3 linked regions of the Homo sapiens genome follow. The protein of the gene in region 1 interacts with the protein of each later gene in a pairwise test. Each region holds a gene or a part of one and is shown in the gene's direction. Other genes may lie near its edges. The genes, in order: RBBP6, ACOT13 and PLG.

Region 1 (10,683 bases):
TGATTGCTTGGGGTCTGGGGTGGAAGGGAGGGTTGGGGAAACAGTAGCATAGGAGAGCCAGGGTAACACCTTATTTATTTATTTATTTATTTATTGAGACAGAGTTTCACCCTTGTCACCCAGGCTGGAGTGCAATGGCACGATCCCAGCTCACTGCAACTTCTGCCTCCCAGATTCAAGTGATTCTCCTGCTTCAGCCTCCTGAGTAGCTGGGATTACAGGTCCATACCACCATGCCCAGCTAATTTTTGTATTTTTCGTAGAGATGGGGTTTCACCATGTTGGCCAGGCTGGTCTTAACTCCTGACCTCAGGTGATCCACCTGCCTCGGCCTCCCAAAGTGCTGCGATTACAGGCGTGAGCCACTGTGCCCGGCCAGTGTCACCATTTTAAAACAGACTCCATCTTAAAACTAGCAAGGCACATTCCCTGCTGGTCACGGCTCATGGTCATAAGATGTTTACAACTGAAGAAACAGCTTAGTAATGCCTGCAAGGACAAACTCCTCCAACAACAAAATGTCCAGATGTCCCGATCTCTCATAACAATATATGATTTTACAACCATTATAGTCATGCTTTTTGATATACTTACGCACTAAAATGCCAAGGATAATTTTCTTTAAATCAACAAGGTAATAAATTTGTTATGCTGCCAGCCTACTAGCACATAGACACAGCTTAGCTTTTACATAGATAAGACCCTATATTAGAAGAGTTTAAAATAAAGACAGTGCATTCGTCCTGTTGCTTTCTGAGGATGCCCTACTCTGCAATGAAGTAGCTTTCAATACACTATCTCTTCTCACTGTACTCTGAGACTCATCCTTAATTCTTTCCTGTGCCAGATCCAAGAACCTTATCTTGAGGTCTGGATGGGGATCCCTTTGTCAGCAACAGGAAGGAGGGATGACTAAGAAGGACACAGGGGAATTTTTATATGTCACTATACATTTGCCAAAATCCACAGAATGCACAACACAAAAGGTAACCCCTAATATGAACTGTGGACTTTAGTTAATAATGTATCAATACTGACTCATCAATCCTAACAAATATATGACATCAATGCAAAATGTTAACAATAGTGGAAACTGTATGAGGGGAGAGGGGCATATGGGAACCCTATACTTTCCACTCAATTTTTCTGTGAACCTGAAACTGCTCTAAAAAAGAGTATATTATGTACCGACAAAAAATAAACATTAAAAAAAATTAAAATAAGGCTGGGCACGGTGACTCACGCCTGTAATCCCAGCACTTTGGGAGGCCGAGGCAGGTGGATCACTTGAGGTCAGGAGTTTGAGACCAGCCTGGCCAAAGTGGTGAAACCCCGTCTCTACCAAAAATACAAAAATTAGTCCGGCGTGGTGCTGAACTGTAATCCCAGTGACTCGAGAGGCTGAGGCAAGAGAATCGCTTGAACCCGGGAGGTGGAGGTTGCAGTGAGCCGAGATTGTCTCACTGTACTCCAGCCTGGACAACAGAGCGAGATATATATTTTGTCCCTTTTCTATTTATTTATTTATTTATTTATTTTTTGATACAGGGTCTCACTCTGTCACCCAGGCTGGAGTGCAGTGGCACAATCACAGCTCATTGTAGCCTCAACCTCCCAGGCTCAAGCAATCCTCCCACCTCAGTCTTCTGAGTAGCTGGTACCATAGGCATGCGACACCATGCCTGATTAAGTTATTAATTTTTTGTAGAGATGGGTTTTCGCCATATTGCCCAGGCTGGTCTCAAACTCCTGGGCTCAAGTGATACTCCCACCTTGGCCTCCCAAAGTGCTAAGATTACAGGTGTGAGCCACCACTCATGGACTCTTTATTAACAATATACTTCACAATGAAAAAGGGAATACAGTGATCTTCATTCTATATTATACCCTATATACCAAAAAAAATCAGATTGATTATGGAGTTTAAAATCATGAAGCTATATATAAACTGGAAGGAAATATAGCAAAAAAATATCTAAGGTGAGTGCTGAGTGGGCTACAAGCCATTTCTCAAAGCAAAAGCAAAAACCATAAAGGGAGAAAGGTCAATGGACTTTTGTTTGTTTGTTTGGAGACAGGTTCTCCCTTTGTTGCTTAGGCTGGAGTGCAGTGGCACGATCATAGCTCACTGCTGCCTCAAACTCCCCGGCTCAAGCTATCCTCCCACCTCAGCCTCCCAAAGTACTGGTATTACAGACATGAGCCACAGCACCCTGCCGGTCGATGGGCTGTATTACATAAACTGCAAAAAAATAAAAAATACCCCAACAACTGTAGGCTGAAATATTAAATAAAATAGAAAGGCAACATAAAAGCAATCAACTCTCTGGAGAAAATACAGTGTGATGTAAGGGATGTATCTACCTTCTGTGAATTGGACTGACAACACAGAGGCTTAGAACTATTTTTTTTTTTTTTTTTTTTTGAGGTACAGTCTCGTTCTGTCACCCAGGCTGGAGTGCAGTGGCAAGATCTCGGCTCACCACAACCTCCGCCTCCTGGGTTCAAGTGATTCTCCTGCCTCAGCCTCCCCAGTAGCTGGGATTACAGGTGTGCGCCAGTGCGCCAGGCTGATTTTTGTATTTTTAGTAGAGACAGAGTTTCACCACGTTGACGAGGCTGGTCTTGAAATCCTAACCTCAGGTGATCCACCCACCTGGGCCTCCCAAAGTAATGGGATTACAGGCGTGAGCCACCATGCCTGGCCTTGTTAGTGCATTTTTAAGATTACATTCAATATACAAGCATAGAACAGCTTCCGTGGGACCAGGCACAAGCTCAGTCCTGTAACCCCAGCACTTTGGGAGGCCAAGGCGGGAGGACTGCTTGAGGCCGTGAGTTTGAGACCAGGGTGGGTAGCATAGTGAGGCTCTGACACTACTGAAAAAACTAAAAATTAGCTGAGCATGTTGGCACAAGCCTATAGTCCCAGCTACTCAGGAGCCTGAAGCAGGAGGATTACTTGATCCCAGGAGTTCAAAGTTACAGTGAACTGTGATTGCACCACTGCACTCCAGCCTGGGTGACAGAGCAAGACCCGGACTCCAAAATAATACTACTAATAATTAAACAAACAAAAAGAGAACAGCCTCCATGAAATAGATCTCATTCCGACTTCCTGAGCTTGAGTAGTTCACTACAGACAGCAGGCAGGCAGAGCTCCTTGGATCTCCCAATTCCGCTTGCTGGAACTGAATTTTGACATAAGAAAATAAGTTAAGGGGTTTACTAACTGTCTATGGTCAATGGTATGAGGCTATACTGGGTTTGAGAATGACAAAGGTTTGAAATCCTGGGACATGGGAGCTCCAGAATTGTTACATTATGAGAAGCTTAGACAGGAATGCTTCATTCACTGTAGGATAGTACAAAAGGCTTTTTCAGGGCTTACAAAAATATTGGTAGGGAGAGAAGCGTCAGGGAGACCAGCTCCATATTACCCAAAGAAAACGGCAAAATTTACAATTCAGCTCACTGAAGAAAAAAGAAAATAAAAAGTTTTTTTTTTAAAAAAAGAAAACTGCAAAATGAAGATTAGTAAAGGAATTCAGTGAAATGGACCAAATGTAGCATTGTGTCAATTAGTCAGGCAACTCAAGTCATAGGCTTATTGCAGGTGGTGAATGCATTTTGACCTGTTTGATGTGATATGAAGTGAGGCCTCTGTAAGTGAGAATATCAAGGTTGAACAAAGTTTTTGGCAGATGAGAACGGTTGGACCAATAGACAACATTCTTTCCAAGGACATCCCCCCCTGCAGATTAGGTTATGATCCACTCTGTCATATCCTGAGGGTGTGGCCCACTTTGAGATCCCATGATGCACCACGCTGATTAAATTAGGCATTCAGTATATAAAGGGGTCGGCCACAGACGGGCAAAAGGAACAGATTCACCGCTTCGGAGTGAATTCCATGACGGCTTGCAATTTTCTCGTCGAGTTTTTCTTTCACTAGAGATAGCCCTCGCCCTTTCATTCACACAGAGGCTTTTAAGAAAAAAGCAACCAACCTGAAGAGGACCTGGCAGCAATAAGTTTTTGGTGAAATAACAAAGAGGTAAAAGTGGAAGAAACTTGTTATATATGAAAAGTACTGATGTGTGTGGTTGAGTTAAATTGTAATGGTATCTCTAGAGCTGCCCTTGACTACGGCCAAAATTTTATTGCCACGACATCTCTATGGATCACGTAAAAATGTATCCAGTTATTCAGCACGTATTTATTGAGCACCTACTATGTTCTAAGAGCTGAGGATACAGCAAAAACAAATATAAAGATAAGATTCCTATTGTCAGCCGAAGGTAGGGGTTGGGGGAGATAGATAATTAAAAAGTAAATGTGTAACTGTCAACTATCTGCAAGTGCTAGGAAGAAAAGACTAAAGGGATAGAGAAAGATCGCCATCTTATTTTAAAAAGATGGCCTTAGGAAGGCTTTTCTGGCAGGATGGTGATTAATTTTAAATCAAGTTCAGTAAGAATTTGGAGTGTGCTTGCAGGAAGTCCCTGGGAAACTCTGCTACTTCTCGGCTATAGGATCTTATTCTCAGTTGCCTAAATTCACTGAGCCTAGCCTGTAAAATTCAGAGAGGATGAGGAACATGGATTGTAAACGATAATAACTATCGTTTATGAATGTAATTTTATTATATTATGATTTTTTCTGAATGTAATAACGTCCCCATGCCCAAAGGAAAAAAAAAATTCCAATCTACTGAGGGGGTTCTTGTCACTGTTCCTGGCATTTGCGCTTAGGAATGGAATCGGGACCCTGCCACTGAGCAGGCATCCCCTTCTGCAAATTCAGAAAGTACATGATTGCTAGCTTCAGTTCCATCATCTATAAATCGGAAATAATGTCATGTTGACCACGTAGGGTTTTTGTTGTTAAATTGACATTTATTGAGCTACAGCTATTAATATTTCGGTGCATTGAGCCACGTCAATGCACCGGCATGGTCTTAGACTATGGATTTATGTGCATTTATTTAATCCAAGTAAACCAAGTACTATTTTTAATGGCATTTTACAGCCAAGGAGACCCAGGCACAGAGGGGTTAAATCTAGAGCCCCCACAGCCAGGGATCCAACCCAGACAACGTGGCTGCTGAGCCTGGCAATGTTGTTATGCGATCAGCCCTGTGCCTAGCACATAGTAAGAGCTCAATAAATCTGTATGGTGCTGGTGGCTGTTATCAGTTCTTGGCAGCGGCTGCTCCACGATTTCCACTTGTCAAGAGTATAGGGTAGCCAGTTTATTGGAAGCAGCAGCTAGGGAGCGCTTGCATAGCAACCATAGTTTTCTGCGTAGCAACCATAATGCTCACTTAAATTGGGAGGCTTAGAGGAGCTGACGGGGCCTGTGGGGAAGGGGGAGTTAGCCGGCCACCCCTAGGCAAGCCACTTTGCAGTGGAAACTGCACGCAGCCCCTGCAAGGCGAGCTCTCCCCACCGAGCCTCCCTGTGAGCCGGTCCTCCTGACGCGCAACCCCCCTCCCTTTTGAAGCAGATGGTTCTTCCCGTTGTCCCTGCTCTTTCAGTTTCCGCGCTTTGGAGTCACAAAGCGCGGGGTCACGTGGGCGGGCCGTGCGCTTTGTGACGTCAGCCGCCCCGCCTCTCGGCCCGCCTATCCGCGCACGCCAGCCCCGCCTCGCGCGCGCCGCCCGTGCAATCCCTGCTTAAGAGACCCCGCAGTGGGGCGCTCGTCCGAAGCCAGGCCGCGTCCGCCATAGTACCTGGCTTGGAGGTGTCGCCGCCGCTCGGTGAGAGCCCCCGAGCGGCAGGGGGCCAACACAAAAAGGGAGCCGGAGAAGCCCTAGCCGCTGCCCAGCAGCTTGCGGGCGTGTTCTCGCGGTTCCGGGCCTCAAGGCGACGGAAACGAAAGGCGAGCGAAGCGCGGAGGATCCGGCGAGAAGAAGCGTCAGGGAGCCTCGGCGGTGTCCCCGGGGTCCGCCGAAGCCACCCGGCCGCCGGCTGGGGCCCGGGGTGGTGAGGAAGTGCTCCGAGGCCTCGCCGAGGCCTAGCGCCGGCTTTGTGTCCGAGGCGGCGGCGGCGGCGGGGGGAGGCGGAGCCGGGGGCGGCCTGCGGGAAGGCCTCTCCTCCGCCGACCGCGCGTTTTCGGCCTAGGCCGTGGGGCCGCTCGTGGCCTCCGGGGAGCAGGCGCCAGGGGTTTGTGTGCGGTGGGGGCCTGGGCCTGGGCCTGGGGAAGCTGACGCCGGTCGTCCGGAAGCCAGGAGGAGGCGTGAGGCCGCTCGTGGACTCCGGGCCTAGGCCCTCTCCCCTCAACCTTCTCCCGGGGCCTGGGTCACCCCAATCCACGGAGAGAGAGACCCGCCGGGAGGTGCGGCCGCGCTATGGACCCCTGACCCCGTGGGGTCGCTCGGACTCTTAACGTGTGGACTGACCGCTACTGACTGCACCGCCAATCCCCCCGTCTCTGCCGGCCCCTTAGCATGAGCGAGGGGGACCCAGCCGGGTGACATTGTGCCCGTTGGCGGATTCTCGATTTCCCCTCTTCCCCGTCCTCGTCCTCCTCCTCCCCCATGAAGTGATTCTGAGTATCGGGGGGTCTCTGGATTATTGTTCTGACGAACCCCTGCTTGTGGTTGGGGGGTATTTAATCTGAGGCCTTAGGGTCCTTCGGTGTCTTTGAGTGTTTTGTGTGTACATATTTTGCTCTTAAAGTTTATAAATATACGTATATTGAGAGTGTCCACGTCTCCTCGCTGAACCTTAGGAATCCCTTGGCACCATGTCCTGTGTGCATTATAAATTTTCCTCTAAACTCAACTATGATACCGTCACCTTTGATGGGCTCCACATCTCCCTCTGCGACTTAAAGAAGCAGATTATGGGGAGAGAGAAGCTGAAAGCTGCCGACTGCGACCTGCAGATCACCAATGCGCAGACGAAAGAAGGTAAGGGCCGCTTGGTCTTAAGATATTTGGTGGCTGGAGAGAGATACTAGCTAGAAGGTGCCTGGCAGGAAGCTAACCGCCATTATGTCTCTAGTGGGGACTGTTCGTTCTAGTACTTTGGATACAACTTTCATTGATAGCCAAGGTTTGCAGCAGTTGGCCTTGGAGTTTCACTGGTTTATTTTATTTCTGCATACTTGGGTCATCTGTAACAGGCTAACCCAAAACGTGGAAGCCTGATTATTCTTCTCGCTGTTTTTTAAAATGAGGGAGGGAGGAGAGGGGGATAGCTATCTAGACTCTTTGAGTGCTTGTCTTAGGGCGTTTTCTAACTTATTTTCCATCAGGAGGGCAGGAGAGCCTGTGCAAAGCTTGTTTGTTCAATCAGCAAAAAAAAAAACAAAAAAAAAACCAAAAAAACAATTTTCTAACCTAACAACATTGTGGAGTTTGATGGCAAATTTTATGTCCTGCCTTCCTCCCTCCTCGCATTTATTTATTTGGAGTTGCTTGCCTGTGTTGTGGATAAGGGATCTGAACTTTAATATTTTTGAGGATTTAATCAGTATTGGAATTGTTTTTGGATCTTGAAATGTTCTGATGTCACCGCTCTTGTCTTGTGTGTCAATTCCAGAATTAGTAATACGGCAATTAAGTAGTTAAACTGTTAGTTCATCACATTACTCTTAAGCTTTATCAATTCGGTGAAGATCAAAAGTACTGATTTTTTTTAAAGTAGTAGTTGCTAGATTTTACGTGACTGTTGATACTAAGGTACTGAAAAATAGGCTGCTACCATAGAGTACAAATAAGCCACTGATAAGAATCGTTAGATTCTTTCTCCTTTTCAAAAGTATTTTGATAATATTGGGAACTTAACAGTAGATAAATGTGACAAGCAGTCTTTCCTGACTCTGAACTTGTTTTGGTTTCTTTTTCTCAGATCAGTAATGCTGATGTGTATTTTTTAGCAGTTCGGTGTTCTAAAAGTTACTGATGGAATGAGAAGAAGTGAAGTTACAATTAGGTTAGGGTATTTTTTTAGTCACTAAATTTTTATCACACTTAAGGTGTGACATGGATTCTTTTAGTTGAAATGGGAGGTCCCCCACCTCCAGCCTGTAGTTTAGGTAGAGTAAATCTTGTCATGTAGAAGACCAGTTTTCCATTTACAATGCAGACCTAAGTATAATTGTATTAGGTTAAGGAACAGCAGTGCTGGCATATCATGACTCAAAAATATTAAGGAAGAATTTATTTGCTCAAATGATATTATGTGAAAATACTGTCTGCTTCCCCACCTTTTAAAAACAAGTGTCATACCCTTTGATAATTGGAGCTATGTGTAATCCTCTGCCTAAGGAGAGGAAAAACTGGTGGTGGTCATGAACAGTTGAGAAATAGCTTTATTTAAGTGCCTCACAAGCATCCCTTAACTACAACAGTCACATTTCACAGAACAGATGGGTTTATAAGAAGTTTGGGCCATCTTGACATATTGAGTATTTATGAATGAGAGGAGAGACAATATGAATGGAATTAAAGGATATTAAGGCAATTTTAATCGTCATATATTCAGGTTTCATATTTTACTGGAGTATTACACAATCGAATCATTAGGGCTAGGCGTTATCCATCTTTTCGACCCAACAATTGAATGCAGCTTTTTTTTTTTTTTTCCCCTGAAACAGAGTCTCACTCTGTCACCCAGGCTGGAGTGCAGTGGCACCATCTTAGCTCACTGCAACCTCCGCCTCCCTGGTTTGAGCGATTCTCATGCCTCAGCCTCCCAAGTAGCTGGGACTACAGGCATGCGCCACTACACCCAGCTAATTTTTTTTTGTATTTTTAGTAGAGATGGGGTTTTGTCTTGCTGGCCAGGCTGGTCTCGAACTCTTGGCCTCAAGTGATCCACCCACCTGGGTCTCCCAAAGGGCTGGGATTACAGGCATGTGAATGCAACTTTAGACTGGGTAAGTTATAGTTAAAAGAATCCTGTCCGGAAATTTAAGAGTTTTGTGACTTTGTGTAACCAATTTTTTTTTCCTAGCCCAGGAAATAAATGATACGTAATTCAAACCCAGAAAGCCAGGAATGTGTTTTTGCCCAGCACATTTTCTTTTTTATATTTATGTGAACTGCCCTTTATTGGAGAAAGCTTTGATGTTCGGTTTGTTAAGAAAAGGGAGCTTTGAGGGAGAAAATGTGTATTTTATGCAGTCCTCAAATTAAGAGAGAAAGAGATATTGATGGTAGCTACTTAACTAGTTTTATGGGAAATAGTATCCAATGTCACAAGGCAGTTGAGTAGAATGCCATTTGGTTTTAGCACCGATATTCAACATATTTACTAAAGAAAACTATGGTAATCTTTTTATCACAGTTAAGGTCCAGTTTCTTAATTTCATTCTTATAATTTTAAAATCCCTAATCTACCATGTTTCTGTAAAACATTTCCTTACAGTTTTGGAATTATGTGCATGTTTAGGTCCCTTAAATCTTTTTTTTTTTTTTTTTTGGAGACACATCCTCACAGGCTAGAGTATAATGGCACAATTTTGGCTCATTGCAGCTTCAACCTACCAGGCCCAGGTGATCCTCCCACCTCAGCCTCCCAAGTAGCTGGACTACAGCCACACACCACCATGCCTGGCTAATTTATTGTAATTTTTTTTTATTTTATTTTGGTAGAGATGGGGATTTTGCCATGTTGCCCAGGCTGGTCTCCTGAGCCCAAGTGTTCTCCTGCCTTGGCCTCCCAAGGCCATCCCAAAGTGCTGGGATTATAGGCTTGAGCCACTGTGCCTGGCATAGGACCCTTAAATCTTGATAAGACTGAAACGCTTGGGTCAGAATTCCATGGATTTTAGACAAGAATCCTGCTTGTTTCTAGACTGTATTTCAAAATGAATATCAAGTAATCTTTGTTATATATGAGAAACTTTTCTGCACACCGACCCCTAAAAAACAAAACATCCTTCGTTCTGAAATTAAAGTGTGAGAGGTTTGGAAGCTGAATATGAAGTGTTTATAAATGACCCTTGTCACCTTTCTTACTCTCCATTTCTCGGATTCATTCTGTTTTTCATTTCATCCATGCCTTTCATGTCTGGGGTCAAAAAAACTGGCAAGCAGAAAGGGTCTTTTGAAGCCAACAGACTACTTGTTAAGGAGGTATTTTAAATGAAATACCCCCAAAGTGTCTTTATTACCCCTAGAAAGATACTTTGAGGGGTAAGAAATCATTGTAATTCAGGTATTTAAAAAGTCAGTTAGAACATCTGTTTTGAAGGGCATTGAGGCACCTTTTAGTTTGACACAGTACGGTGCTAATCAAATTAATAAGCTGTCTTGGAAAGCTCTTGTGAGTGCATTGAGTTGTTACATATTCAGAAACTTCCTGTCAGGTGTTTGACACAAAGTTTTATTTCTAGAATTAACTTTTAAAAAAATCTAGTCACCCCATGCTCTCAGTTTTTCTGACTCAAAGCTTCCTCGGAATTTGGGGCTATCATGAACTGTCCAAGATAAAGATTATAGTCCTACATTGGCATGCCTAAATCTAGGAAATTGCCTACCTCTAATTGAATGCCTGTGAGATAGTGCCTTCTACTTGAAGTATATAGAAAATAACCCTTGCCTGAACAATTTCATTTCTAACAATACTATTAGCATTATGACTAAAAATAATTAATATACATTAAAAGCCGAATATGCCTACATATGTGGTAAGCGTAATAATCGGAAGAACAGAGATAGTCACTTTG
Region 2 (10,278 bases), on another chromosome or scaffold:
AACTTCTTTTTTAATTTTTACATTAAGCCCCTTTCATTCTATGAAATCAGTCATTTCTGAAAAGCCCTTGTTCCTTTCAGTGAAGAATTGTATTTAAAGGCCATGATCTGGGTGCTAGATGAACTTAATGTCAATTTTGTAGCATAAAATATTTTGAATTGTCTCCCTTTTACATAAAAATAACCTTCAAGAGCATAAAAAAAAAGTGCAAAACTTTCTTTTGTGAATTTCATCCTACCCAAAAGTTCTCTTATTCAACAATGAGCTATTAGACTTTTTTTCAACGTCTTACTGTGGGGGAAAGAGAGATCAGACTGTTACTGTGTCTATGTAGAAAGAGGAAGACATAAGAAACTCCATTTTGATCTGTACTAAGAAAAATTCTTCTGCCTTGAGGTGCTGTTAATCTGTAACTCTAGCCTCAACCCTGTGCTCGCAGAAACATGTGCTGTATTGACTCAAGGTTTAATGGATTTAGGGCTGTGCAGGATGTGCTTTGTTAAAATTGTGTTTGCAAGCAGTATGCTTGGTAAAAGTCATCGCCATTCTCCAGTCTCGAGTACCCAGGGACACAATGCACTGCGGAAGGCCACATGGACCTCTGCCCAAGAAAGCCTGGGTATTGTCCAAGGATTCCCCCCACTGAGACAGCCTGAGATAATGGCCTCATGAGAAGAGAAAGATCTGACCGTCCCCCAGCCCGACACCCAAAAAGGGTCTGTGTTGAGGAGGATTAGTGAAAGAAGGCCTCTTTGCAGTTGAGAAAAGAGGAAGGCATCTGTCTCCTGCTCGTCCCTGGGAATGGAATGTCTCGGTATAAAACCCGATCGTACATTCTATTTACTTGGATGGGAGAAAACCGCCTTATAGCTGGAGGTGAGACATGCTGGCGGCAATACTACTCTTTATTGCACTGAGATGTTTGTGTAAAGTCAAACATAAACCTGGCCTACGTGCATATCCAGACATAGCACCTTTCCTTAAACTTATTTATGACACAGAGTCCTTTGCTCACGTTTTCCTGCTGACTCCACCATTACCCTCTAGTCCTGTCGCATCCCCCTCACCGAGATGGGGATAGTGATCAATAAATACTGAGGGAACTCAGAGACCAGTGCCCATGCAGATCCTCCGTATGCTAAGCGCCGGTCCCCTGGGCCCACTTTTCTTCCTCTATACTTTGTCTCTCCGTCTTATTTATTTTCTCAGTCTCTCGTCCCACCTGAAGAGAAATACCCACAGGTGTGGAGGGGCTGGCCCCCTTCATCTTACCACCAGAGAGAAAAAGCCAAGTGATTCCATGCCTGATCAAAGATGTTATTTCCTTTTTATGAAAAGCATTAAAACCAGAAAGGAGAAATTATTAGCTCTTTATTTCTGTCAAATCTTCTGTTTCATAGCTGAATTTAAAAATATATATACTATCATAGACAAAGGTGTTTGCTCATCACATCAGGCCCCTTACCTATCCGGCACACACACCTTTTTTTCCAAGTTTAAAGATATCCAACTATAACTCAATCTACCTCATAAAACTGTAAACACAACCCCTACTTTCCTCAACAGGTGGACTGTCATGGGTGATGTATGGGGAGAGCATGATGGTGTCATTAATCATAGCTTATACTTACTGAGCTCTATATGCCAGGCACAATTCCAAGTGTTTTACATCTATTAGCTCACTTAATCCTTACAACAACCCCATGAGGAAGGGGTTGCACAGATAAAGAAACTGAGGCAGAGAGAGGTTACACAGTTACTAAATAGCACAGGTAGACTCAGAACCATATTACTATCCCCACTGCACAAAGAAATTGAGGCAGAGAGAAGTTACACAGTTACTAAATAGCACAGGTGGACTTATAACCTTTGCATTTTGGCTCCAGAGTCCATGCTCTTATTCACTATGCCATCCTTTCCTCCTCTGTTTCATTGTAATCCAATTCCATATTGATATAGTTTGGATGTTTGTCCCCTCCAAATCTCATGTTGAGATATAATCCGTAATGTTGGTAGTGGGGTCCAGTGGGAGGTGTTTGGGTCATGGAGGCAGATCCCTCATTAATGTCTTGGTGCTATCTTCACGATACTGAGTTCTTCTTGCAAGATCTGGTTGTTTAAAAGTATGTGGCACCACCCCACCCCCTTGCTCCTGCGCTCTCCATGTGATACCTGGGCTCCCCTTTCCCTTCTGCCATGATTGAAATCTTCCTGAGGCCCAGCAGAGGCTGGGGCCATGCTTCCAGTAGAGCCTGCAGAACTGTTAGCCAATTAAATCTCTTTTCTTTATAAATTACCCAGTCTCAGGTATTTATAGCAACACAAGAACCTAATACAAATATCTCTGCAATTTATGCAACACCCACAATATTTAATATTTAATGCAGCAAGAAAAACCAGGCAACTGTATTAAAAATTTCCTTTTGGAAAAATGAAAAGGGAAATAAACTCTAAAACGTTGCTGTACAGAAATACTAAGGGAACAGAAAGGGACTGGCAAACTTTAGGGGCATGATTTGTTGACTTCATTCCTAAGCAGAGGAGGAAGTGCTTTTGTCAGTATATCTGGTGTCTTAGGTTTTATGTGTTAGGCCAGTGCTCCTCAATTTTAAATCACCTGGAGATCTTGTCAAAATACAGATTCTGATTCAGTAGGTCTGGGTGAGACCTAAGATTCTGCATGTCTAACAAATTCCCGAGTAGCAGTGGCACGCTGCTGGTCCAGAGTCCACACTCTAAATAACAAGGCTCTGGGACACGGGCTTTCAATGCTGGCTCTGCATTAGAATTACCTGCACAGCTAATAAAAAAAAAAAAAAAAGCCAATAAGGAATAATGGGCCCCACTCAAGACTAATGAAATTAGAATCTCTGGTTTTTTTTTTAAATTCCCCAGATAATTCCAATATGCAGCTAAGATTCAGCATAGCTGTTTTAAGAGGATTTCCCTTGTCTCTCATCAGAGACACTGAAGATAGATTCTAATGTAGGGGACTAAATCACTTTAGTGTTCAATTTCAATTTTTGTTGATATCCCAGGAATTCACTCCAGAATTGAGATTCCTGCGCCATTCATTTAAGACAGCCAATGCCCTTGCTCAGCAGGGTTGAGTTTTTCTGGTCATAAAATCTTCCAATCAATTTTTTTTTCCCTTTCATTTTTGCTAAAGCCAACATCAAAAATCTAATCAGGTCACAGGCCTTAGAAACACGCTGAAGTTTGCCCCTTCCCCATTTTTCTCTCTTGAGCAAACTAAACTTTAAAACCTCACTCTCATTCATACTTGACCTGAGTTCTGAGAGACAAGAGACCACAGCCTAATCAACACCTTTGCTTGTTTTTGCCAATTTACCATTCCGGGGTAAGAGAATCCTAATAGCCATGACACCATTGATCAGCTTGATCCGCATCTTTTCTGAGGGCCTATTACAGGAAATCCACTTATTTTGTTACTATTTATTGGTTACAATATAGTCTGTTGCAACCAACAGACATTAACTCAGGTTGGTTTGACCAAAACAGGAGAATTTATAAGGAAACAAACATGTCACAGAGCCTGGTACAGAAATACAGCCATGTTTAAGGAAGGGCAGTTAAGGGCTTTCTCTCAATCCTACACTTCAACTTCCCTCTGCTTCATTGTCTCTCTGCAGACCTCTGTTCTCAGCTTCTCTGTACACAAAAAAAGATATGTATGAATCCTCACAGGTGCTAAGTTAACATGTTACAGTTCCAGCTCCATAGGAAGACTCAGACTTGACTCTCTTGGTCCTAATTCTGAAACCAAGGAGAGGATCTGACTGGCCAGTTTGAGCTAGGCAAACACCTCCTAGTCCAACTTGCTCTGGTTAGTAAAACGGGAGCCAGAGACAAATCACTGTGGGTGAGTAAACAATTCCCCAACAAGAGGCAAGACAGAGAAAGGAACCTAAAGAAAATATCTTATCACATCTGTAAGCCAGTGTAGCTGAAAAGACCAAAGGGAAAATAAAGTCTCCACTATGAACAGTCAATTTTACAGGTTGTACATATAGCTGGGAGAATTTTATACATTCAGTAAATATTTATTGGGAGCTTATTATGTGTCAAATGTTGTGTCAGACTTTGGGAAATTAACAATGTACAAAACAGATACTCCTTACTAGATGTGCAGTCTAGTAGGAGACATAAAATAATGAACAGCAATTATAATACGGACTAAGGTATTGTAACAGGGGTCATGCAGGATGCTATAAGAGTACCTAAAAGGGGACTCTTACCCAGACTTAGGACATCAGGAAAAGCTTCCTAGAGATAAATCATGTCTCAGCTTGGGGCTTTAAGACAAATATTAGCAAGGAAGGGAAAAGAAAAAAATTCCAGGCACAGGTAATAAAGATCTTTACGAAGTTTCAAAGACAGGAGAAAATGACCCGTTGGAAAAAAGTAAAAGTTTGATAGGCCTGGAACCTGGAAAGGCAGGTTCTAAGTTATGGAGCCAAATAGTAGAGGGCCTTGTAAGGCAGCTACACTTTTTAAGTGCAGGAACTGGAGAGGGGCACTGAAATAACAGGAGTAGGTGTGCATTAAAAAAAAATAACAACAACAACAAACCTGTTATTCTGGCCGGTCAGCCTAGGGCCTAGAATAAATAAACAATACAGGAAGCAAGGAGACTTCCAAGTTGCCATTTTTCGATAGAAGGTTTAGCCTTCGTTCATTTGTTTCAAACCTCTCGCTTACTTATTTCCTTTCATTTGAGTTAAACATTACATTTCCATCTTTTCCTCCCTGGACCCCAAATCACGTTCGAAGCGACAGTCTGGTGCAGTGTTAGATCCGCTGCTGGGGCGCAACTCCGCGCAGCAGCAGCAACGCAAGCCCTGCTCCTCTGGCTACGCAGCTTGGAGATCTGCCTCAGCATCGTCCGCCCAGCTCCACGGCAGGTCCCAGGACGCGCAGGGCTACCTGGTATCAAACTGCCTCCGTGCGGACTGGCTCCCGCTCCCCTCATCACTTACTAGGTCTTGGGCTCAGAGATGGTTTCAGGTCGGCGTTCCAAGGCGCTCTCCTCCACCGGAGGCTCGAAGTAGGAGTTCAGAGCCCTCTGAAAAACAAAGGCACAAGGGATGAGGTTTGTGCGCTCCACCGACCTAGGTAATGGAGCCGGAAGCGAGGACAGCGAAAGCGTACTTCCATCTCCCAGTCGTTCTCGGCCAGGAAGCACTGAGCCACTGCGGCATCGCAGCTTGCGACCGAGGCAAACTCCACACACAGAAGTCGCCGCTTTTTCACCTCAGGCTCGCCCTCTTCCTCCGCCGCCTCCCTCCCGCCCTCCAGGCAACTCCCCAACTCCATCTTCCTGCCGCCTCTGCACCGCCCCTTTAAGCGGAACAGGAGGCCAACGCGCGGCTCTGCGCAGGCGCCTGTGTCATGGCGCTCCCGCATCAACCGCCCGGCGGGGAAATGCGCTGCTCTCGGAAAACTGGTGCAGCTGCGCCGCAAGGGAGCCGCCGGGGCGGTGGGTGCGAAGCGCGCATGCGCGCTTCGTCACAAGGGTGCGAGGAAAGTCAGTGAGCAAATCGCGGACCACCGGGGCTGCCAGCTCGCCTGACTCCCGGCCTCTTGCGCTCCTAGGGGCGGAGAAGGGTGCGGGCTCTTCGCCCTTTGTGTCCTCCTTCTTTCACTAACTTCTGGACTTTCCAGCTCTTCCGAAGTTCGTTCTTGCGCAAAGCCCAAAGGCTGGAAAACCGTCCACGATGACCAGCATGACTCAGTCTCTGCGGGAGGTGATAAAGGCCATGACCAAGGCTCGCAATTTTGAGAGAGTTTTGGGAAAGGTATGGGAAAGGTAGGGGAGAAGCCGTGGCTTCTAATGAAGGAAAAGAAAGCACCGTGCTTGGTGCCGTTGTGAGCTTTGAATAATTATCTCTTGTTAGGTTGTGTTCTAGTACGCCTGTAAATTCACCTTAGTAATAATGATTATTACTTTAATGGAGCCCCTAAATATGCTGGGTCGAACGCGTAAGTTCTCTATCTAAACATAGATAAGTATGGTTATGACTCGTGGAGACAGTTCCAAGGCTGGGAGGGACTTTGGAGTTTGATCCTTCAACCAACAAACGTCTGCATTGCTCCAGAGAAGAGTAAGAGAAACCTCTGCATTTAAGGCACATTACAGTCTAATTCTCTAGGCTCTAGAAGATTAGAAGATAAATAATTGCAATAAGGTACAAAAGCCAAGTGCTTGGTAGAGTGGTGAACGAAGGGAGAAGTTGTTCCTCTGTAGTGGTTTGGGAAATTTCTCAAAGGCACCCAACTCCTGAAGAAGTAAGTTAGCCCTTGGAGGAAGACTGAGTGCTTTTCTGAGACCAGCACTCACAAAGCCCGAAGGTGTTTGTTTGTTTTTGTTTTTTTAGGATGAGGTTTCGCCCTTGTTGCCTAGGCTGGAGTGCAATGGCGCGATCTCGGCTCACTGCAACCTCCACCTCCCTGGTTCAAACAATTCTCCTGCCTCACTCAGCCTCCCGAGTGGCTGGGATTACAGGCATGCGCCACCATGCCCAGCTAATATTGTACTTTTAGTAGAGACAGGGTTTCTCCATGTTGGTCAGGCTGCTCTCGAACTCCCGACCTCAGGTGAAACGCCTGCCTCCGCCTCCCAAAGTGCTGGGATTACTGGTGTGAGCCGCCACGCCAGACCTTGAAGGTGTTTGTTGTTGTTGTTGTTTTGAGATGGAGTCTTGCTCTGTTGCCCATGCGGGAGTGCAGTGACACGATCTCGGCTCACTGCAACCTCCGCCTCCTGGGTTCAAGTGATTCTCATGCCTCAGCCTTCCAAGTAGCTGGGATGATTACAGGCATGCGCCACCAAGCCTGGCTAATTCTTTATTTTTATTAGAGACAGGGTTTCATCATGTTGGTCAGGCTGGTCTCAAACTGCTGACCTCAGGTGATCCACCTGCCTTGGCCTCCCGAAGTGCTGGGATTACAGGCATGAGCCACCATGCCCCGCCAAAAGCAGGGATTTACTGAAAATGAAAGGACACTCCTGTGTTTGGGGTGTGGAGCAGCAGCTCAGGGGCCCTAATACCCCATTGAAGTCTCCTATTGGCCACTTGGTACTCATCTCATGTAAATGAAGTGGTGACCCACAATTGGCTGTGAAAAGCAACCAATGAAAGGCTAAAGTGAAGTTACAAAGTTGCCCTTATATGCAAACGAAGACGTGGCGTGCAATCAGATGGTGAAGTTACATAGTTACACTCCTATGGGAAGATCTGATTGGTTGCAGAAAGAATAATTTTTTTTAAGGGATAACTTACTTCTTAGCGTAATTTTGCTTTTTGCAACCAATCAGAGGTACTTTCAATTTCCCATCTGCCACACAGAAAAGGTGGGGGTTTGGAAAGGGAGAAGCCTCTGGTTCTTTTGTTACTTGGTGTGGGAAGTTAGGGTTTTACTTTCAATTTAGTTCTAGGAAGTCAGCGTGAAACAGCCCTAGGTTCCCTGCCTCCAGATCCGATTCTCCTGCCTCGCTTGTAAGAAAATCATGCTCCATAAGAAGCATTTATAACTAAACCTTGTGAACCCCAAAAATTTGAGACAGGTATCAGTTAATTTAGAAAGTTTATTTTGCCAAGGTTGAGGATGCGCACGCAGTGACACAGCCTCAGGAGGTCCTGACAACATGTGCCCAAGGTGGTCAGAGCACAGCTTGGTTTTATGCGTTTTAGGGACATATAAGACATCAATCAATATATGTAAAATGAACACTGGTTGGGTTCGGAAAGGCGGGACAACTTGAAGCGGGAAGGGGGCTTCCAGGTCACGGGTAGGTGGGAGACAAATGGTTGCATTCTTTTGAGTTTCTGATTTACCTTTCCTAAGGAGGCAGTCAGATACACATTTATCTCAATGAGCAGAGGGATGACTTTGAATAGAATGGGAGGCAAGTTTGTCTTAAGTAGTTCCTAGCTTGAATTTTCCTTTTAACTTAGTGATTTGGGGGCCCAAGATATTTTCCTTTACATTTGCCCCCTTTTCTTTTTTTTAAAAAAAATTTTTTTTTGGAGAAAGCATTTTAGAAGAAAAATGAGTCTTTGGTCCCAGATTTCATCTGATCGCTCATGCTAGGATGGTTTATTCCTAGACAGGTAAGTCCCAAGTTATTAGGAAAGCTAATTTTTAGAAGGCTGTGAACTCCCATGTCTTGTGAAGAGAAAATAGGGGGAGGAAGGGTGAAAAACAACAAACAAAAGAACAATCCTGGAAAATATACATAGGCCACGTTATTCTGAAGTCCATACATCAGTAGGCAGGTATGAAAGTGGCTTATGCGTGTAAATAGGTTGCTGTTATTTTCTTCTGAAGTTTAAGTTGTCTAGCTTCAGTTTGCAGGGCTTTACAAAAGCACAGCTGTTTTCAGTGACTCCTAATTAGGAAAAAAAAGGAAAAGAAAAGAAAAAAATTAAAAATATTATTTTGGAGACTTGTAGCCAGGAAAAATTAGAATTCAGCCTAAACTGTAGAAAATAATAAAAATTGAAAAAATTAGGCAAGACTAGTATCTAACAACAAGTGGACTGTAAGTTTTGAAACAATTTTTCTCTCTCCAGTTTTCCATTTTTACTAAAGACAAATCATGGTAGGACTGATTTGCTTTATTATATTTGACCAGATTATTTATATAAAGTGTAGCAAGAATAATTATTTTTCACATAGGCTTTTTAAAATTGGCTTTGAAGGAACTTTGTTCCATAGAAGGAATCTCAGATAAGATTCTTTTTAAAGCCAAGCTCAGCCATGGATTTGTACCATCAAATACCTATGAGTAGGGTGAATTTCCTCTTTTTGATGTTCCATGATAAACCAGGGGCTCCTGGACCTGTCAGAAAATGACATTCTTTACTTAGCACATATCAGAAACCCTGTACAGGGACTTTGTAAAGTGTGAGGCCAGTTTTCCCAAGGGCTTTTATTGGCTCCATAAGTCAGGTTTGATTACTTAAAGGAAAGTACACCTTTCCACTCAAAGCCTTGGTAAAATAATCAGTTTCTCCAACTGTGTCCTGTTACAAATGAAAACAGATTCTTACTGCACTTATGCAAATAACTGTATTGGCACAAGTTAAGAATACTCACAAATAGTTTACAAATTCTGGAGAAATCAGGTAGAGAGAAACAAATATGCTCCAAATTTTGTTGATTGGAGTATACTAAATTGTTAAAAGCTGTCAATAGCTCAAAAGAAAAGTTTCAAGGCTCTGAAAAACAAAGCAAAAGATCAGCAATGTTTAAGCAAAAAGTCAAAAAGATTAGTTCAGTCCCCTTAGTTAATTCCTATTCTGCTTGATATTCATGAGCATTTTAGCTCTCCATGAGTTCTGAAAGTTTTTCCTCTATTCTCATGTAACAATCTCCAAAGTTAATGGAGACCTGCATTCAAGAGGAAACAACAGGTGCTGGAGAGGATGTGGAGGAATAGTTACGTTTTTACACTGTTGGTGGGAGTGTAAACTAGGTCAACCATTGTGGAAGACACTGTGGTGATTCCTCAAGGATCTAGAACTAGAAATACCATTTGACCCAGCCATCCCATTACTGGGTATATACCCAAAGGATTATAAATCATGCTACGATAAAGACACATGCACATGTATGTTTATTGCAGCACTATTCACCATAGCAAAGACTTGGAACCAACCCAAATGTCCATCAATGATAGACTGGATTAAGAAAAAATGACACATATACACGATGGAATACTATGCAGCCATAAAAAAGGATGAGTTCATGTCCTTTGTAGGGACATGGATGAAGCTGGAAACCATCATTCTCAGCAAACTATCACAAGGACAGAAAACCAAATACCGCATGTTCTCACTCATAGTTGGGAATTGAACAATGAGAACATTTGGACACAGGGCAGGGAACATCACACACTGGGGCCTGTCGTGGGGTGGGGGGATGGGGGAGGGATAGCACTAGGAGAAATACCTAATGTAAATGACGAATTAATGGGTGCAGCAAACCAACATGGCACATGTATACATATGTAACAAAACTGCACGTTGTGCACATGTACCCTAGAACTTAAAGTATAATTTAAAAAAACAAATTTAACAAAGAAAACATTATCAAGAATAAATAATGAATCTCAAAAAACAACAACAGCAACAACAAAAAAAAACACTTTCTAAAGAGGACCAAAACAACACAACAATTGTGCGTGGATGACTAAAAGTTTTAGGGCAGCCATAGGCAAAGACACAATTGACAAGGAAATTTGATACCTCT
Region 3 (10,365 bases), on another chromosome or scaffold:
AGAGTTGTGTAGAGGTCTATCAGATCCATTTGGTCCAATGCTGAGTTCAGGTCCTGAATATCTTTGTTAATTTTGTGCCTCGATGATCTGTCTAATACTGTCAGTGGAGTACTGAAGTCTCCCACTATTATTTTGTGGGCGTCTAAGTCTCTTTGTAGGTCTCTAAGAACTTTATGAAGCTGGGTGCTCTTGTGTTGGGTTCACATGTATTTAGGATAGTAGATCTTCTTTTTGAATTGAACCCTTTACCATTATGTAATGCCCTTCTTTGTCTTTTTTGGTCTTTGTTGGTTTAAAGTCTGTTTTGTCTGAAATTAGGATGGCAACCCTTGCTTTTTTGTCTGATTTCCATTTGCTTGGTAGGTTCTCCTCCATCCCTTTATTCTGAGCCTATGGGTGTCATTACATGTGAGATGGGTCTCTTGAAGGTAGCATACCAGTGGGTCTTGCTTTTTATCCAGCTTGCCACTCTGTGCCTCTTAAGTTGGGCATTTAGCCCATTTACATTCAAGGTTAGTATTGCTATGTGTGAATTTGATGCCCTCATTGTGTTGTTATGCTGGCTTGTTTGTGTGATGGTTTTATAGTGTCATTGGTCTGCGTATTTAAGTATATTTTTGTATTGGCTGGTAGCCATCTTGCTATAGTTAGTGCTTCTTTCAAGATCTCTTGTAAGGCAGTTCTGGTGGTAACCAACTCCCTCAACATTTGCTTAGCTGAAAATGATCTTATTTCTCTGTTGCTTAGGAAGCTTAGTTTGGCTGGATATGAAATTCTTGGGTGGATATTTTTTAAGAATATTGAATATAGGCCCCAATATCTTCTAGCTTGTACGGGTTCAGTTGAGAGGTATGCTGTTAGATTGATGGGGTTCCCTTTGTAGACGACCTGTCCTTTCTCTCTAGCTGCCTTTAACATTCTGTCTTTCATTTTGACCTTGGAAAATCTGATGATTATGTGTCTTGAGGATGATCTTCTTGTATAGAATCTCACAGGGGTTCTCTGTATTTTCTAAATTTGACTATTGGCCTCTCTAGCAAGGTTGAAGAAGTTTTCATGGACAATATCCTGAAATGTTTTCTAAATTGTTTACTTTCTCCCCATCCCTTTCAGAAATGCCAGTGATTTGTAGATTTGGCCTTTTTACATAATCCCATGTTTCTTGGAGGCTTTGTTCATTCCTTTTCATTCTTTTTTCTTAATTTTTGTCAACTGTCTTATTTCAGAAAGCCAGTCTTCCATTTCTGAGATTCTTTCCTCAGCTTGGTTTATTTTGCTATTAATACTTGGATTGCTTTGTGAAATTCTTACAGTTTGTTTCTCAGCTCTCAGCTCTGTCAGATCCATTAGGTTCTTTTTTAAACCAGTGATTTTGTCTTTCAGCTTCTATATCATTTTATTGTGATCCTCAATTTCCTTGGATTGGATTTTGCCATCCTCCTGGATCTTGATGATCTTCATTCCTATCCATAGTCTGAATTCCAGTTCTATCATTTCAGCCAGCTCAGCCTTGTTAAGAACCCTTGTTAGAGAACTAGTGTGGTTGTTTGGAGGACATATGGCACTCCGGCCTTTATGTTCCTTTAACTGCAGTGTAGGTTGAATACAGCCAATAGACTTGTTCTTTGGATGTTTTTACAGGGCCAAAGCCTTGTGCAGGGTCTTTATTTGTAGTTGATTTCTTGTCTTTGGTTTCATAGTGTGGTATGTTAGCAAGGTATTTTTGGTGTTGAAGCTTTGGGGTGTGATCCATTTTTTATTTGTATATTTCCCTACACCTAAAACAAGCAAAAAAACAGTAAAGGTCTTTGAGTCTCTTAATCCATAATTTCAGCATTCCTGAGTATGCTTCCCTGGGTAAGTGGGGTTTTCACCCAGCCCTCAAGTTAAGAGTGTTAGATTATTTTTCATGTGAAATTAGCCAGACTGGCTTTCTTAACACAATGTAAAACAATAACAACAAAAGTTATAATTAGACTAGTCTTCTTCCCAAATACCCACATGTCTAATGTAAGTGGGATGGTGTTAAACAGGGGACCTACAACTGGGGGAGAGGCGGACAGGTCCCATGGCCCCAGGTCTAGGATGGCATTTGGTATTGGTTGATGGGTGTGGATGAGAACAAGAGAGGGAACACTTGTGCAGGATATGGTATCAGCACCTGTAATACATTTTAGGGATTCTTTCTTCTCTTTGCAGTATGCCCTGACAATAATTATATCCATCAGCCTAGTCCCCTTGGCCATTGAAACACTAAGACTGTCTTAGGATCCCTGCTGCAGTTTCTCAGAGGTGCTAGGAGGGCATTAGGAGTCTGAAGCCCTGGAAGTGTGTTCTGACTTTGCCACTAGCTAGATAGACCTGGACTAGGCACGTTACCTCTTTGTACCACTCAGCTCTAACCCCTCATTCAAAAACCCAGCATTTTCAAGTGGTGTTTTTCACATCAGCCTTTGCATAAGTTTTCATTTGAAGAAAGGTTTGTTTTTGTTTTCTTGGTTTAATCAAACATTTAAAAACGAATGGTCTAGATGATTTCAAAGTGGCTTTCCTTTTCCTGTGCTTTTCCTACTATTTAAAAACTTTACCTCCTTGATTTCTTGATCTCCCTTTCTGCACTGCTGGGTCTGGGAGCATTGAGGCCAAGTAAAAGGAACCTTGGCAAAGGAGGAACACCTATGGGTGTGCCAGGCTGCTCCCAGTGTTTTGCATTTTTAAAAATTTAAATGCTGCAAACCTCTATGAATTACATATTATTGTTCCTAGTTTACAAATGAGGAGCCTGAGGCTCAGAGAATGTGTGGGATGGTACAGACTAACCTGAATTAGAACCCTGGCTCCCATTTACTGGCTGTCAGGACTTAGAAAAGTCATAAACTCTCTGGCTGGGTGCAGTGGCTCACGCCTGTAATCCCAGCACTTTGGGAGGCCGAGGCAGGCAGACCACGAGGTCAGGAGCTTGAGACGAGCCTGACCAACACGGTGAAACCCCGTCTCTACTAAAAATACAAAAATTAGCCGGGTGTGGTAGCACACCCCTGTAATCCCAGCTACTCAGGAGGCTGAGGCAGGAGAATCGCTTCAACCTGGGAGGTGGAGGTTGCAGTGAGCCAAGATTGTGCCACTGCACTCCAGCCTGGGTGACAGAGTGAGACTCTATGTGAGAAAGAAAGAAAGAAGGAAAGAAGGAAAGAAGGAAGAAAAGAAAGAGAAAGAAAGAAAGAAAGAAAGAAAGAAAGAAAGAAAGAAAGAAAGAAAGGAAGAAAGAAAGAAAGGGAAAGAAAGAGAACGAAAGAAAGAAGGGAGGGAGGGAGGGAGGGAGGGAGGGAGGGAGGAAGGGTGGGTGGGTTGTGAACTCTTGTTGATTGTTTCCTCAGCTGAAATGTGGGCTGCAGGGCTATTGGGGGAGAAACAATAAGAAAGTGCACCAAGCACCAAGCACATGCTAAGAAGTCCATCATGGCAGCTCCTGATAATAATATGGAATAGAGTTGTATCTAACATGACTCTTTCTTGCAAGTGACAGAAAATGCAACTTAAGTTGGATTAAGCAAAAAAGAGAAATCATTAGTGAACTGAAAATTCTGCAGGCTCACATCATGGCCCCAGACCCTGTCCATTATTCTTGGGCACAAATGTGACATTCTCGTGGCTGCAGATGCTGTGGTGGCTCTGGCTCTGCCAGGAAAAGAAATAAGGAAGGCCACTCTCCCCATTACACAAACAATAGTCTTCCAGCTCTGAGAGGTCGAACTTGTGTCACCAGCCTGCCCCTAAACCCGTCACTGATTAACTCCAACCTGCATCAGCTGTTCCATGCTGGAGGTGGACGCAGGACCACACTCATACCAAGATGGGGGCAAAGTGTAGTTCCCTCAACAGGATTATAGGATATAGTGTGATAGGCTGCTGGGCAGCCAAAAAGCAAACAGATCCTCTACAATTCCTCAACTGATGAAAGCACGAAGCTAAAATCATAAAGATCTGTGTGTGAGTTCTGGCTCTCCCATCTTCCTTGTGAGATTGAGCAGTTAGTTAATCTCTTTTAGCCTCAGCTTTCTCACCTGTACCAACATATAAGGTCATTGTGAGGATTAAGATTATGCCTCATGATCATCATTATCATCATCACCATCCACATTGCAACCACAACTACCATCATCATCCCCACCAACATCATCACCACCACCACCATCACAATTATCATTACCACCACCACCATTGTCACCCTCAACATCACCATCATCACTATCACCACCACCATCATCATCACTACCACTACCAACACCATCACTCTCATCATTCCACCACCATCACCATTAACATTACCATCACTATCATCACCACCACCACCACCACCACCCCCATCATTACTGCCATCAACATCACCATCACCATCATCACCACCATCACCATCATTATCAACCATCATCACCACCATTCCACCACCATCACCATTATCATCACTACCATTATCACCACCACCATCATCACCACCACCACTACCACCACCATCACCACCATCATCACCATAACCATCATCACCACTATCAACATGATAGTAATTATGATTACCACCACCATTAGCATTATCATTACCACCACCAGTACCATCACCATCACCACCGCCACCACCTCCATGATCATTACTACCCACCACCATCACCGTCACCATCATTTCACTACCAGCACAATTATCATTACCACCACCATCACTACCACCCTTATCACAACCCTCATCATCACCACCATTCCACCACTGCCACCACCACCACCACCATCACTATCATTAACAATAGACATCACATAACCAGTTTGTAGCTGGACCTTGAGCCCAGAGCCCACTCACTGTTTCTTCAGTCCCACCGCCAACCACCAGGATGAGTCACAAAACATAACTCAGGCCTGCTCCTCAATTTTCTACATGTCAATAATGACATTGAAGCAATGGGTGTTCTCTGCTTCTCAGAGGGAAGTTGAAATTCTCCTGCTCTTCCCTTCATGTTTCCAGATGTTCCCTGACTTGGATATTCCAAACGCAGAGTTTGGAGGTGTTGAGGCCAAGGGGTTTTTCCAGGTCAGCCATCATCTGCAATCACTGAGCTGATCCTGCTGCTGGACTTTCCCTGTTGCCCTCTCCCCAACGCCCCATCGGGGAGGGCTTCAATCCTCAGGTCACCTGTGGCCTTTCTGCCCTCAGAGGTGCCATCTCTACATCTACCACTGGAAGGCAGCACCTACTCACAGATTGCATCAATTTCCCAGCAACTCATGGTGGGTTTTCCCCCTTATCAGCGTGTTTGCCTTGCTCAGAGAGCAGATCCCAGAGCAGTGACACCTAACTTAATTTTCAGCAAAACATTTTGAGAAGGGTGCTCCCTCACACAACTACACAGTCCAGGTGATGCACCCACTGCCCAATGCTTGGTAGTCAAGAGGAGCTTCCTCCCTGCAGCTCTGCCCAGATAGGGCTGAGCTGGGCTCTGGAGCCAGGCGCTGGGATGAGCCTCTTCCATGCTGCTCATGTAAACTCCAGATTCAGTGTCGGTTTTCTGAACCCGAGACAATGATCTAAATGCAGTCGAAGGCTTTGGGGAAAGAGAGAGTGCCTCGGTTCTTACCTGTGTCATGCTCGCAAAGCAAAGAGTTTTGCAAAATTTTAATGAAACCTGGGCTTGCAAAATTGGAAAACTAGATTATTTGTGACGACACTGAGACATCCCTGGGCATGTCTATCTGGAAAAACGGCATTTTCTCTGGCAATTTTGCAGACATTCTATTTCAATTTGGCAAAGAAAATAAAGCAGTTTTTCACAAAGGCAGAAATACAACTAGAATGTTCACTCTCCCTAATTGTCAAAGAAGTGTAAATTAGAAAATGAATCAGGACAATTTCAACCTATTAGATTAGCTAATATTTTAAAAATTGAAGACTCATACAAGTGAGGTGAAGTGATTGTTTTCTAGTGGCACGGTACACTGTCACACCCTTTTAGAAAATAATTTGGCAACGTTATTGGGAGACAGAAATATGTCTATGTAATTTATGGGAACTTAGACTCAGAAAATGTTAAGGAATAAGAATGAACTTTATGAACAAAGATGTGGAAAGCTGGAAGCAAGAGTGGGGCCAACACGCATGGGGAGGAAGCATTTGGGCAGTGACTCCACAGACCCAGGCTCAGGCTGAACTACACAACCTCCTTACGCCTCAGTTTCCTTAACAGTAGAACAGAAATGATAAAAGTGCCTGTTTCACAGGACTATTGCGAGGATTAAGTGAGATACATCGCATTATAAGCTTGTGTCTGGAAAGGTTAATTCTTGGTAAATGATGACTATTCTTTTTTATTGCAATAAAATATACAAAACATAAGGTTTACTATTTTAACCATTTTGGAAGGTACCACTGAGTGGCATTTAGTACATTCACAATCATGTGCAACCATCATCATATTTCCAGAACATTTTCCTCATTCCCAAAGGAAACCTCATGTTCATTAAGCAGTAGCTCCCCTTAACATATTAGTTATGAAGATCATAGCATTATACAAAACTCATGACACAATGATGAGTGAAAAAATCAAGATGTGAAATTTTGTGTTATGATGTAATTAGTAAAAGAAGCATATTAAAACATCTGAAAAAAGAGTATATAAAAATAGCAATTGCATTTTTCAGACTCTACATTTTAAACATTATTCTTTATAGTTTTAAAAGCAAAAAGTAAAGAAACAACAACCAACCCCAAACCAACACGACAAAGCCCAGATTGTTAATTCCAGGGCTCAGGAACACAGAATCATATATGATGTTTACACTCTGCAGGGTCAGAGACTCCAGCGGCATTGGGAGCTGCCTCGTGTTCTGCAGCCTCACAGACAGGAGGTCCAGTGCCGCTGCTCTGTTCTGGAATATCCTCCTGAATGTGTTTTGGGTGCAGTTGCCATTTCTTTCATCTTTTTAAACACAGGTACTTTTGGAGCTGGCCTTCTCAAGGAAGCCCAGCTCCCTGTGATTGAGAATAAAGTGTGCAATCGCTATGAGTTTCTGAATGGAAGAGTCCAATCCACCGAACTCTGTGCTGGGCATTTGGCCGGAGGCACTGACAGTTGCCAGGTAAGCAAAGATCAAGAGACCAAAGTTAGTCTTGTGCTCTCTTGTCTCAGTCTCAGCCCCTCAGACTTCATTCCCCAGGTGGCAAATTCAAGGATTTTCAACCGAAGACCCCAGTCTAAGTGTTGTTTAGAAACTTCCTAGATCTGTCCCTGAATGCGTATTCAGATCATCTAAGGGGATGTCTTGGGGCTTGAGTTCCAAATCAGTAGCAAGCGAGTTTTAAGTGCCATAACTACCTCAGGCCACTCACCCTCCTGGGGTGTGCTGGTGGCCAGGGACTAAAGTGGTGACTTTTCCGGTAGGGAAGGAGGTAGAGGATACAGGACAGAGACCAACTGCACACACTTTACACTGATGCCCAGGCTAGCCCAGTCTAAAGGAAACACCAACATAGGAAGGGATGTGTGCAGGATTCACAAAAGATCTTTTCTACCCCCCGGAAAAACTAAGTGGTGTGGTTTCGCTAAACAGATTTTGCTAAGTACTTAAGCACTGCAGATGCTTGAGTAATATGCTCATAAGTTCCTTTCTGATTTCAATTACTGGGAAAATGTATATATGGATAGTAGAAGGATGGCATCCCATAATAAAAGGCAGGCAGCCTAACCCTCACATGCATTTTTCTCTCCCTCTGTATAGGGTGACAGTGGAGGTCCTCTGGTTTGCTTCGAGAAGGACAAATACATTTTACAAGGAGTCACTTCTTGGGGTCTTGGCTGTGCACGCCCCAATAAGCCTGGTGTCTATGTTCGTGTTTCAAGGTTTGTTACTTGGATTGAGGGAGTGATGAGAAATAATTAATTGGACGGGAGACAGAGTGACGCACTGACTCACCTAGAGGCTGGAACGTGGGTAGGGATTTAGCATGCTGGAAATAACTGGCAGTAATCAAACGAAGACACTGTCCCCAGCTACCAGCTACGCCAAACCTCGGCATTTTTTGTGTTATTTTCTGACTGCTGGATTCTGTAGTAAGGTGACATAGCTATGACATTTGTTAAAAATAAACTCTGTACTTAACTTTGATTTGAGTAAATTTTGGTTTTGGTCTTCAACATTTTCATGCTCTTTGTTCACCCCACCAATTTTTAAATGGGCAGATGGGGGGATTTAGCTGCTTTTGATAAGGAACAGCTGCACAAAGGACTGAGCAGGCTGCAAGGTCACAGAGGGGAGAGCCAAGAAGTTGTCCACGCATTTACCTCATCAGCTAACGAGGGCTTGACATGCATTTTTACTGTCTTTATTCCTGACACTGAGATGAATGTTTTCAAAGCTGCAACATGTATGGGGAGTCATGCAAACCGATTCTGTTATTGGGAATGAAATCTGTCACCGACTGCTTGACTTGAGCCCAGGGGACACGGAGCAGAGAGCTGTATATGATGGAGTGAACCGGTCCATGGATGTGTAACACAAGACCAACTGAGAGTCTGAATGTTATTCTGGGGCACACGTGAGTCTAGGATTGGTGCCAAGAGCATGTAAATGAACAACAAGCAAATATTGAAGGTGGACCACTTATTTCCCATTGCTAATTGCCTGCCCGGTTTTGAAACAGTCTGCAGTACACACGGTCACAGGAGAATGACCTGTGGGAGAGATACATGTTTAGAAGGAAGAGAAAGGACAAAGGCACACGTTTTACCATTTAAAATATTGTTACCAAACAAAAATATCCATTCAAAATACAATTTAACAATGCAACAGTCATCTTACAGCAGAGAAATGCAGAGAAAAGCAAAACTGCAAGTGACTGTGAATAAAGGGTGAATGTAGTCTCAAATCCTCAAAGAGCTGTGTTTATTTCATTGACAAATAGATTATTTGTATTCAATTCTGATGTGCTTTAAGGATGAAGTTTCTCATTTTACAATTAGCACACACTTCGTATATGTTGTCACCTGTTCTCCTTACACAAATGTTGTTCCCCATTTTGAAGGATTCCCTTTGGTACCAGTTTTGCCTGTCCACATAAAGTATTTCATTTAAAAAGCTCAGCATAAAATATAGACTGCATCTGAAAAGATATTGAATATAATATACATAGCAGAACACACACGTTCCACATTTCAAAAGCCTCGATAACAAAAAAGAAAGATCAAAGCCCTTATTAGTCGCTGTAAAGCCATTTATAAAGCTCCTGCTGATCCTGTTAAGCATGGATATAATTGACCTTTCTTTTAAATTAAAATGTAAGCTTTTCCCCAAGACAACTCAAAGTGCCAAGACTGAATGGGAACTGTCCATGTTTCTAACTCTTGGCCACGGGCACCATCAGAACTGAACTTAACAAATATATGAAAAATATCTCTTCATTTTTAAAATCCTAAGACCCAGAAATCATAATCCATGGGATTTGTTTAGTAAAGAAGAAAATCTGTGGCTCTAGGTGTCCACTAAAGGAGAGCCAAAAATGTCCCGAATAATCTCAGGACCACAGCATCATTTTATGAATAACAGAACCAAGACCTCAGATTGTACAACAGATTGGTTCTTATTGCTGGAATGGGGCATAAACCATGCCTGGAACCCCAGATGCTACAGAGAAGGTAGATGGGAGAGACTTCTGACCTGTTCATGTTGCAAAGGCGTGCGGAGACCAAGGTGAGCAGAGGACACGAATGCTCACATTCTGTGGCCCAGGAACCTGTGATTCAATCTCCTCATTAACAGGATTCCCAAATTTTCATCCTCCCTGCAATTTTTCAAATGCTCGGTTATGGGCTTAGTCCCTTGACTGATCAGATTTGATGAACATTTCTGCACAAATTTCCCAAATCCTTGGTTTTCAAATCCTGCATTCTTGATGGAGCTGTTATGAGAATCGGGTGGGGGGCTTCTCTCGTCTCTCTTTAGCCTAATGAATCAGAGACCAGGAAGAGCCATGCACCTGAGAGGCTCTTTTTTAAGCCAGCTACATATTATGTGTTCCCAGAAACTTCAACAGCACTACAAATAATCCTAACTCATCCAACATTATATAAAAATACTCTGGATAGATTGAGGTCTTTATACAGTATTACAACAGTGTGGCATAATGTAGCTGAAATGCACACGTGCATCTCTGCAAGGACAGCTTTGCAAGGAGGATCAGCTCCTGGATAGCTCCTTCCTTCCCTCTGTCAGGGGCCTCAAAGGTGAGAGCTGGAAACTGGAGTTTTTTTATTCCTGCCACACTTATAGGAATGTGGACTGAAAAAACAAAGGAGAAAGGAGAAAGTCTTCGTGAAAGATTATGCAACT

The links.
Region 2: the proteins of RBBP6 (region 1) and ACOT13 interact in a two-hybrid assay, tested with the Homo sapiens proteins (one study listed by BioGRID and IntAct).
Region 3: the proteins of RBBP6 (region 1) and PLG interact in a two-hybrid assay, tested with the Homo sapiens proteins (one study listed by BioGRID and IntAct).

Annotation. Positions count from the first base shown.
Region 1 is NC_000016.10:24,533,877-24,544,559, forward strand, and holds the start of RBBP6 (E3 ubiquitin-protein ligase RBBP6), read left to right. Parts: upstream 1-5,689; 5' UTR 5,690-6,750; coding exon 6,751-6,916; intron 6,917-10,683. UniProt on the Homo sapiens protein: E3 ubiquitin-protein ligase which promotes ubiquitination of YBX1, leading to its degradation by the proteasome.
Region 2 is NC_000006.12:24,661,526-24,671,803, forward strand, and holds the start of ACOT13 (acyl-coenzyme A thioesterase 13), read left to right. Parts: upstream 1-5,551; 5' UTR 5,552-5,738; coding exon 5,739-5,819; intron 5,820-7,591; exon of another isoform or gene 7,592-8,413; intron 8,414-9,123; exon of another isoform or gene 9,124-10,278. Other genes in the region: TDP2 (tyrosyl-DNA phosphodiesterase 2), read right to left, coding at 5,001-5,086, 5,173-5,337. UniProt on the Homo sapiens protein: Catalyzes the hydrolysis of acyl-CoAs into free fatty acids and coenzyme A (CoASH), regulating their respective intracellular levels. Has acyl-CoA thioesterase activity towards medium (C12) and long-chain (C18) fatty acyl-CoA substrates.
Region 3 is NC_000006.12:160,745,142-160,755,506, forward strand, and holds the end of PLG (plasminogen isoform 1 precursor), read left to right. Parts: intron 1-6,973; coding exon 6,974-7,119; intron 7,120-7,758; coding exon 7,759-7,920; 3' UTR 7,921-8,956; downstream 8,957-10,365. UniProt on the Homo sapiens protein: Plasmin dissolves the fibrin of blood clots and acts as a proteolytic factor in a variety of other processes including embryonic development, tissue remodeling, tumor invasion, and inflammation. In ovulation, weakens the walls of the Graafian follicle.